Linked DNA regions of Homo sapiens: region 1 is linked to region 2. Evidence: fine-mapped expression QTL. A gene starts in region 2. The other region holds a variant in brackets. All regions are shown on one strand. Distances are between the middles of the regions. Region 1 overlaps RNF220 (ring finger protein 220). Region 2 holds the start of ARMH1 (armadillo like helical domain containing 1).

Evidence for each region. PIP is the estimated chance that this variant, and not a neighbour inherited with it, causes the effect.
Region 1: its variant is the best candidate, but not a certain one, in a credible set for the expression of ARMH1 in prefrontal cortex (GTEx, PIP 0.80).

The regions. Positions count from the first base shown.
Region 1 is chr1:44,522,376-44,526,760 of GRCh38, forward strand. The region is part of intron 2 of RNF220 (ring finger protein 220); the gene reads left to right. Among named protein-coding and RNA genes, the nearest start is that of MIR5584, 21 kb to the right of the region's middle. RefSeq lists enhancers at 413-1,270, 1,271-2,127, 1,777-3,102. The variant A/G (reference allele first, on the strand shown) is at 2,751.
Region 2 is chr1:44,672,028-44,676,412 of GRCh38, forward strand. It overlaps ARMH1 (armadillo like helical domain containing 1), which reads left to right and starts at 2,687. Exons shown (of 12, transcript NM_001145636.2): 1 at 2,687-2,846. TMEM53 (transmembrane protein 53) reads right to left here and starts at 2,454. Exons shown (of 3, transcript NM_024587.4): 1 at 2,304-2,454. The coding sequence starts at 2,364. RefSeq lists an enhancer at 1,898-2,399 and silencers at 2,167-2,306, 2,457-2,506, 2,577-2,626.

The sequences.
Region 1 (4,385 bases), 150 kb before region 2:
TGGAGCCTGGCACACAGTAGGCACCCAATAAATGTGAGGCCCCATACCTATTAGAAGAAGCAGAACTCAGAGCATTTGAGTTACAGAAGACTTCTTGAAGGGGGTAAAAGTCGAACTGGTCACTTAAGGACTGGAGGATTCTATTTTATTGAAGAAAAGAGAGACCTTAATTGAGGTGGGTGGACAATAGTTGAGCACAGCACTGGGCTGGGCTCTATGCATGGACAGAGAGAACCAAGTAGAGACCAATCTGAGCTTCAGGTAGAAACATCCCTCCTGGGGGGGCGGGGGGACCTTCTGTGCTTGATGTCACCTTCCCAAAAGGAATGCAATGCCCGGGGACCATCTTTGACTAGTATACCCATTTTGGAAAGTAGGGAAACTCGATCTTAGTTTATAATTTGCTCACAAACTTAGATAACCTCTGAGGCCCTGCCCTCCTGGAGCTGGTGTGGTACATACATTCCACTAATGGTAGTTAGAGCAAGTAGGACTGTGTGTGCATGCATGCATATGCTTAAGCACTCACAAAGCCAAAACAAAGCGTGCTACCCACACTGGCCTTGGAGCTTGGCAGTCACAACCAACAGCAGCCCATCCAGAGAGCAGCTTTGGGTCTGGAAGGACTAGTAAGGGAGAAGGAAGGCGAGAGATGGGGAAGAACATATGTTCAAAAATAAACACTGCCTCCTGCTAAATGGTCTAGAAAGCATCTGTAAGAGGGGCTCTGGGCTGTGGGGTTTCCGAGGATGGTGAGTGTGGGAATGTTTTGTCTGTAGAGTTGGGGCTGGGGGCTTCCACATCCTGCCCACTGCCACATCTGGGGAAGTCATCTGCACTGGGCTGATGGCTCCCCGAGCACTCCTGCTTTAATGGCTCGTGGTGCCGCAAGAAGTGGCCCTGTAATGGCCATTCCAGGCTGCCCCGGGGAAGGGTCTGGGCAGGCCCCAGGCAGCCTGTTTGCTCTCCTCCCACCCCAGGCCAGCCAGCACCTTTCACCTCCTCTTTGCCTAGGTGAGCTGGCCTGAACCCTAGTTGGGAGCCTCCAGCTGTGGGGAGACAGTGGGACTAGAGGCCTTGGACATTTAGAGTGGGGATAGGACTTGGTCCCGCGCTTCCTGAATGCCATCCCCTTGCTAAGGCACAGGCTCCTGCATCTGTCATTGTTTGCGTTCTTCTCTTGACACAGCTCTGCCAAAACCTCATCTCTTTACAAAATGAGGCTAATGGTTATGGGGTCAGGTCCAAGACCAAGTGGTGCAGAAGGAGCAGGAACACCATGCTTTGAAAGAACCTGCTTCGCATGGTGTTAGGGAGAGGTATGGAAGGAGAAAGCAGAGAAATGTGCTGAGGCAGCTCAGAGGGCTCCCGCCTCTGCTATCCCCCAGGGCCCAAGAGGATCCATTGGTCATTTCTGCCCTCACAATCCAGCATCCAGCGCAGCCCCATCCCCTCGTCCATCCCGAGCCTGAGACATAGCTGCAGGTGCAGACAAACCTGCTCGCCAGTGACCTCTGGCATGGGGTATTTTAATGGCATAGTCCGCTTGCCTTGCTCAGGTCCCTGGGGAATTAGCTGGGGGACCCAAGAGCAGCGGCATTGTGAGTCGAGATACCTGCAAGTTGTAAGGATTGAGCGATGGGTCCTAGCTTCAGCAAGGGGGAGACTCCCCCTGCCACTCTGGTGCCCCAGCAGCAGCCTGGCTAGAGTGGGGGCCCAAATGTGAATGGGGGGATGCTGGAGGGGGGCAAAGGGAGGGGAGGGCTTGCACTGGCTCCTCTCAGCAAGGGCTCGTAAAGCTGCAGGTGTGAGATGTTGTTATTTAGTCTAGAGCCTGGTATGTGACAGCCCGGGCCCTCTCTCCTGCGAACTGCCGCCGCCACCGCCTCTGCTGGCCAGATAATTAGTCCATTACGACTCTCCCACCTCGGGTAGGTGGGGGCAGGGTGAGAGCCCACCCTCAGACTCCTTGTAATTCAACTTCCTGTGTTTTATGGAAGCAGGCTGTTGGGGGCAGAGAGTGAAAGGCCGGTCCCTAGGCTTGGCCAACCCCTTCCTCAACTCCCAGCCCCCACCTCCCTCCTTCCACCCAAACCCGGTTGCTGTGGTGACCAAATGTTATTTCCCAGCTTCGTGTTGGAACTGCTTTGTAAAAGTTTTTTACATCTCTTACCTGCCTCAAACACGAATGCAGGCTGGTCTATCTCTCCCTGCGTCTTGCTCTGCCCGTCTCTTCCTCCGCATCTCTCCTCTGTCTCTCTCTATTTTTATTACACGCTTATCGCCTTTTTCCCTCCTGCTTTTGAAATTGATTTCCTTTCCTTTCTCCCCCTATTCAGGACCTAAACGCTGAATGTTCGATATTTCATTTGAGACCGCTAATCGCATTACTGCCCTTGACGTTTTACAGATATCATATTATGGGCGCAAATTTGGCAAATTATTAGCGCTGTAATGTATAGCTTGTCAGAGGTATTTAAGACGCTAAGAGCCCAAGGCTTATCGGGGTTAGCAGAGAGCTCTCGTTGAGCTTTTGAAATGCAGAGAGCCAGTTATAAAACACACTGTGACTCTCTCTTCAGCTGGTGAAAAAAAGGAAAAGAGAAAAAGAGAAAGAAAAAGAAAAAAAATGTCACCCGTCTATCAGAGGCTTCCAGGGCTGATAACAAGCAAAATTCTTCTCTGTGGGTTTCACTGGAAATGTGAGAAGCTTTTAAAACATTTCTCAAGCTGTCTGGAAAAGAAAAAAA[A/G]TCTTTATTGAAAGGATGTAGCAATCTTTTTTACTGTGGCCTATTTATCTCTGGGGAAAAAGCTGTAACAAGAAGATCCCCTACTGGTCACCAGCCGTGTCAGGGCCTGCCTGGCTTTGGTGCCAGGACTTTGGTGTGGGGGGCTTGCTGAGCGAGAGGGGGGCCACCTTTGGCAAAACGGGGAAAGGCTGCTGGCTGGTGTGCATTCCTGTGGAAGAGGCAGCGTCCTGCACGCCTAGCACAGCGCTCAGGGCTCAGCAGACGCATCTCATCAAATCCTTTTTGAATGAATGGTTGAATGAACCAACCAACAAACACACACAAAAAATAACAGAACCTTGAAACTGCTGCCCCGCTTTGGTCTGCCTAACTGTGCCAGGTGCCTGTTTACCCCCCTACTACTGTAGCAAGTGACTTTTGCTGATACCACTGTCCACATGTGTTCCTTCACCCTCATACAAACATCCCTGCTCTTTTGAGGCCATTCGATCCTCTCTACTTACTTGTCACTGTCATCTGCTGATGACATCTCCCCTCTATTCAGCAGGAACGTTGGCACTCAGTATCTCCCTGCTCACCCCTATTCTGCGTTCCTCCTGTGAATTTCAGCACCCACATGGACTGTCCACATCCTGGGATCCTCTGCTGCAGCATCCTGCACTCCTACAGCAGATTCCATGGAAACACAGCCCCGCCCTCAGTCTGACCATCTCCCACAATTTCTTCGTCTCAAAAATAATGAACTCTGAATCCCATTTTGTAAGCTGCGTCTGCTGTCCTTATGTCCGTTCTCCTTCCTCACTCCCACTGAATCTGTTTTTGACCTCCGTTAGACCTTCAGTCCCTGGACCATTCCTAATTTAACAAGCCCACCATTCCCCTCCTAGCTTCACTTTCTTTCCTGCCCGACCTTGACCCTTTGATCAACATCTTTAAAGAATTTCTTCGTGCCATTTCCTCACCCTTTTGCCTTTCTGTCCCACCTGTTTGCCTACCTCAAATCCCAAATCCATGAAAGCATTTACTTTCTCCTCTATTTCCGGCCTGTGATGCTCCGGGGAGAAAAGCGCATAACCATTTCAACTGGTGTCACCACTAGCAGACCCTGACTAAGTCTCAACAGTCTGCGTACTTGTCCCAGAATGACTTCCCATTTCCCACAGCAGTTGTTGTAAACCCTTCCCTCTCTCAAAATATTTCTCTTCACTGCCTCTGTTTACCTCATTCTCTGTAGATGACTTCATTTCCTGCTTTTCAGAGAGAATAAAGGCCAAACAGCCACAACTTTTCTCCCTCCCTAACCTTGGCCTCACCCTGGAGGCCATCTTCACTGAATTGTCCCCTAACTCAGTACTACTCAGTACTTGTGTCCTGACTCAGTACTACTCAGCACTTTTGTCCTAACTCAGTACTATCCAGTACTTGTGTCCTAACTCAGTACTCATCCTTCCACCTGGGCCCATCACTCCTCCTCCTTCAATCTGGCACCACCATCTCTTCTCTCACATTTTAAATATCCCTCTTCCTACCAATGCCTTTCTCTCTGCCTTCACACACCCTCAAATCTCCCCTTTAAATCTTCTTTTAATCTTAACTTCCAAGCACATTACTCTCCCCTCTTCCTCTTTCCCTTTA
Region 2 (4,385 bases):
TGGGGCTCCAAAAGACTGTCACTCTATCAGGCCATGTTGGCCTGGAGGGAAGCTCTGCAGATAGGAAGCAAATGGATTCAGGGGACCACAGCGTCGTGATCTCCTTCTGAGGGGTTTGACAACCTCTAGCTCTCCTCTGGAGCATGGACTGTGAGAGGGAAGGGCAATGAATTAAAGCCAGTCAGGAGCAGCAATAAGGAGGAGAAACAACTGAAAGCCGTGGAGGTGTTTCCCTTGGAGGAAATGTGAAGGCACGAAGCTGTCCTCTTGAACAGAGGAAGAGAGATTCCTTGCTCTGTATCGTTCCCACCACAATGCTCTAGCCCTGCAGTTAGCACACCATTTTGAAACCACCTGCTTATAAATTCACTCCCCTCCCCAAAACCTCAGCTCCTTGGGCGTGTGAGTCACTTCTGAGTGGCCAACAACGATCCCACAGCCAGGACACAGCAAATACTGAACTGAGAGCGGAAATTACAGGAAGGCCTATTGTGGCTCAAGAAAGGGAAGTGCTTTCTAACAATCCCAGCTGCCTCCAACAGGCTAGAATGTTTGGGCAGAAGCATCGCCCCAGGGAAGGGTCTGCTAGCAATGGAATGCACTCATGCCAACAGAGGGAGGCAGGACAAAACAGTCTCTGAGATTTCTTCCAATTCTAAGACCCAGCCTCCTGGAGCAGCAAAGGGAGCCATGGGATCCGCCACTGCACTCCGGCCTGGGCGACAGGGGAGACTCCATCTCTTAAAAAAAAAAAAAGAAAGGGGGGCTGAGGGGGAACCACAGGGGAGCAATGCAATGGCAGCACCTGCACTGTGCCAGGGACACACATCCAAACGCTACCTCGTAACCCTCGCAATCCCACGAGGAGGTAGGCACTAGTACTCTTCCCATTTCACAGTGGAGGAATCTCAGGCTCAGGGAGGTTCAATAGCTTGCCAAAGACATATAACTTGTAAGACATGGAGCTGAAATGTGAACCAGGACCACGAGGCTGCCCTCCTGGCCGTGCAGAAGGCAGCTCCAACCCTTTGCAGCCGAAGACTCTCCAAAGGAAATAATATTAACTGACTTCATGGCTTGCTGACGCCAAAACGTGTCCAAAGTATTTTTACATCTATAAACCCAAAAGCGCTAAGCCAGCAGATCCAGTTCTAGGGAAAAACAGCTGGTCTGGGGCCATCTGTTCTGCGGGAGTCTAAGGGCTGCCCTCTCCTAGACTCCAACCAAAGAACATGAGATGCTACGGGAGGGATCTGGGAAGGCTCTCCTTAAGGAGGTAAGTTTTATGGAGAGCAGAGTATAAGATCAAACCTTTGCATTAGAAAGATCACTGTGGTAGCAGTTTAAGAGGCTGGGCTGCAGGCAGTGAGACAGGAGGCGTGAAGGCGATGCTGGACTAATGCAAGTGAGGGACACGCTGGCCTCAGGCTGATCATACTTCAAGGCCCTTCTGCCAGAATTCCCAGAGAGACCAAACTTTCCACTCTCTGGACCCCGATCTACTCACACTGTCATGGATGCGGGCCTGCTGTCAATCCTAATTTTGTGGAGAATCCTACATGTCTTTCTTTAATGTAAGGAGAGAAACAATGCTGATCGTAAATGCCAATTACTGAACTCACTCCATGCCAGGCCCTTTACACAATCTCCAGATGGCCCCAACAGCCCTATGAGGAAGGTTACTATCCTTATCCCGGTTTTGCAGAGGAGGAAACTGAAGTTCAGAGAAGGTAGCTTACCAAAGGTAATCCAGCTCCTAAAGGAAGGAGTCAGGATTTCAGTCGAGTTCTACCCGACGGCAGAGACTGCACTGTTAACCACTGCCGAGAAGAGTGGAGAGGGACGGCTAAGGGTTCTGAGTCCCGGGCTTCTGCGAGGATCGGTGACCCCGCGAGCCTCCCCCTCCACGCCTTCGGGAAAATAATAAGTGATAGGCTAGATGTGGGAAGCCCAATCCCAAACAAAGGAATCAGGAGGGATCCAGCTTTCGGCAGCCTTCAGCTATGAGAAGTGATTAAAGGGCATGGACCTGAGCACCCCGGACAGGAAAGACAGAAAAAGAGGTCCCAAGCGAGCAGCTGACTCGGGCAGAGGCGGGGCTCGCCAGGGAGGAACACTCTGGGGCGGGACTTACGAGGGGCGGGGCTCTCTGAGCCTCTCTAAGTCTAGGACCTGCCAGACCCTATGAGGGGGCGGCCCGAGGGAGGGCGGGGCCGCATGAGGGGCGGGGCTACAGCTGCGCTCGCAACCCACAGGTTCATGAGGTCACCTCCCCGCGCCTGGACCCAACCCTCATTCCATACTCTGGCTCCAGCAGGGCTGATCCGGGATCTCGATGGTGTAGTCCAGCTCTGCCGAGGCCATGGTGAAGGCGCCGGCCCAGAGCACGGGTCTCCAGCCGGAACTCCCGCTTGCGCACCCGTGCCTCACCCGGGCGCCTCCTGGGCGCCGCCCAATCACCACACACCTCCCCCAACACGGCCCAATCCCTGCGCCGCGCTCTGTGACCTCCCGCCTTAGCAACCACCGAGTCTCTTCCAGAGCCTCTCGCCTCACCCCACTAGCTCGGCCCTAGCAACCATGCCCCGCCCCTATTACTGACCCGCAGCCATTGGCTAATTCGCTTGATCTGGATCAGGTATTGGTCAGCCGGGGCGCCGGTCAGGAAGAGTCCCCACCCTCTCATGTAGGTGAGAGGCGGCTGAAGAGTTGCTGTATTCTGGGAATGGGCAGGGTCACTCGTCCGAACAGAGTCCTATCCTACGCGGCGGAAGAGTGTGCCCTTTGACTTGCATCGTCTACCTACCTCTGCCATCCTCTACCAGCCGCAACTGCGAGGGCTGGAGGTATAAAACCGTACAAAACGGCCTAGGGGGCGCGTGCCGACCCAACCTCCACCCAGTGGGGTTGAGGCATATTCTGGATGGATGGATGGATGGATGGATGGATGGGTGGATGGGAAGCAGTCTTCAGTTGATGACTTTAGAGAATGCCCTGTTGATAGGGCCCACCGAGGAGCTGGGAGTGCAACTTTCTTGCATTTATCTATATTTACATACTATGTGCCAGCATATTTACATACTATGTGCCAGAGACTGGGTGGGCTAAATAAGGTTCCTTAGGCCCTAGTGAGAATCAAGCTTTTGGCCCTCCCTCTCCCATGTCTTAACGGGAGAGGGAGAGAAACCATGCATGAAGCAACTCTGATTCTGCGTGTGAGATAAATACTACAGAAGAGTAAGGATTTGAGGAGCTCAGAATCAGAGAAGGGGCATTTATGGCAGTGGGGTTGGCTCTTGAGCTGGGCCTTGAAAGACTTTTAGAGATAGGGAGGGGGAAAGACTCTTTGCATGCCAGGCGCGGTGGCTCAAACTCGTAATCCCAGCACTTTGGAAGGCCAAGACGGGAGAATGGCTTGAAGGAGTTCAAGACCAGCCTGGGCAACATAGTGAGACCTTCATCTCTACAAAATTAAAATTTTAAAAATTAGCCAGGCATGGTAGCGCATGCCTGAAGTCCCAGCTACTTGGAAAGCTGAGGTGGGAGGATCACTTGAGTCAGGAGGTCAAAGCTGCAGTAAGCCATGATTGTGCCACTGCACTCCAGCCTGGGTGACAGAGTGAGACCCTGTCTCAAAAAACAAAACAAAGAGCCCAGTGTGGTGTCTCACCCCTGTAATCCCAGCACTTTGGGAGGCTGAGGCGGGCGTATCACTTCAGGTCAGGAGTTCGAGACCAGCCTGGCCAACATGGCGAAACCCCATCTCTACTAAAAATACAAAAATTAGCCGGGCATGGTGGTGCACACCTGTAATCCCAGCTACTTGGGAGGCTGAGGCAGGAGAATGGCTTGAACCTGGGAGGTAGAGGTGGCAGTGAGCCGAGATTGCTCCACTGCACTCCAGCCTGGGTGACAGAGCGCGACTCTGTCTCAAAAAAAAAGAAACATTAGTGCAGGAACTGGATTGAGGATTGGGAGAAGGAGGGAGACCAGTTAGGAGGTTGTTTCAGTAGTGGGGAAGGATTATGGTGGCACAAAGCATGGAGTGGCAGCTGAAATGGAAAGGGCAGGATGAATTCCTTAGACACTTATAGCTAGAAAAAAATGGACTTGGTTACTAATTGGGTGTGGGGGAAGTAAGGGAAATGAAGGATGACTTCTAGATTCCTGGTTTGGGCAAACAGGAAGGAGAGGAAGCAGGGGTTTTTAGGAGAGGGTCAGTTCTGGGCACGGTGAGCTTGGGGTGCCAATGGAACATCCAAGTGGAGGTATCCAGAAGGCCATTGGATATGCCTAACTGGAGTTCGCCAGATAAGTCTAACTGGAAGTTGCAGTGTGGGAGTCTATGGGGCCTTATAGATGCCAGCCACACCAATAGATTTGTT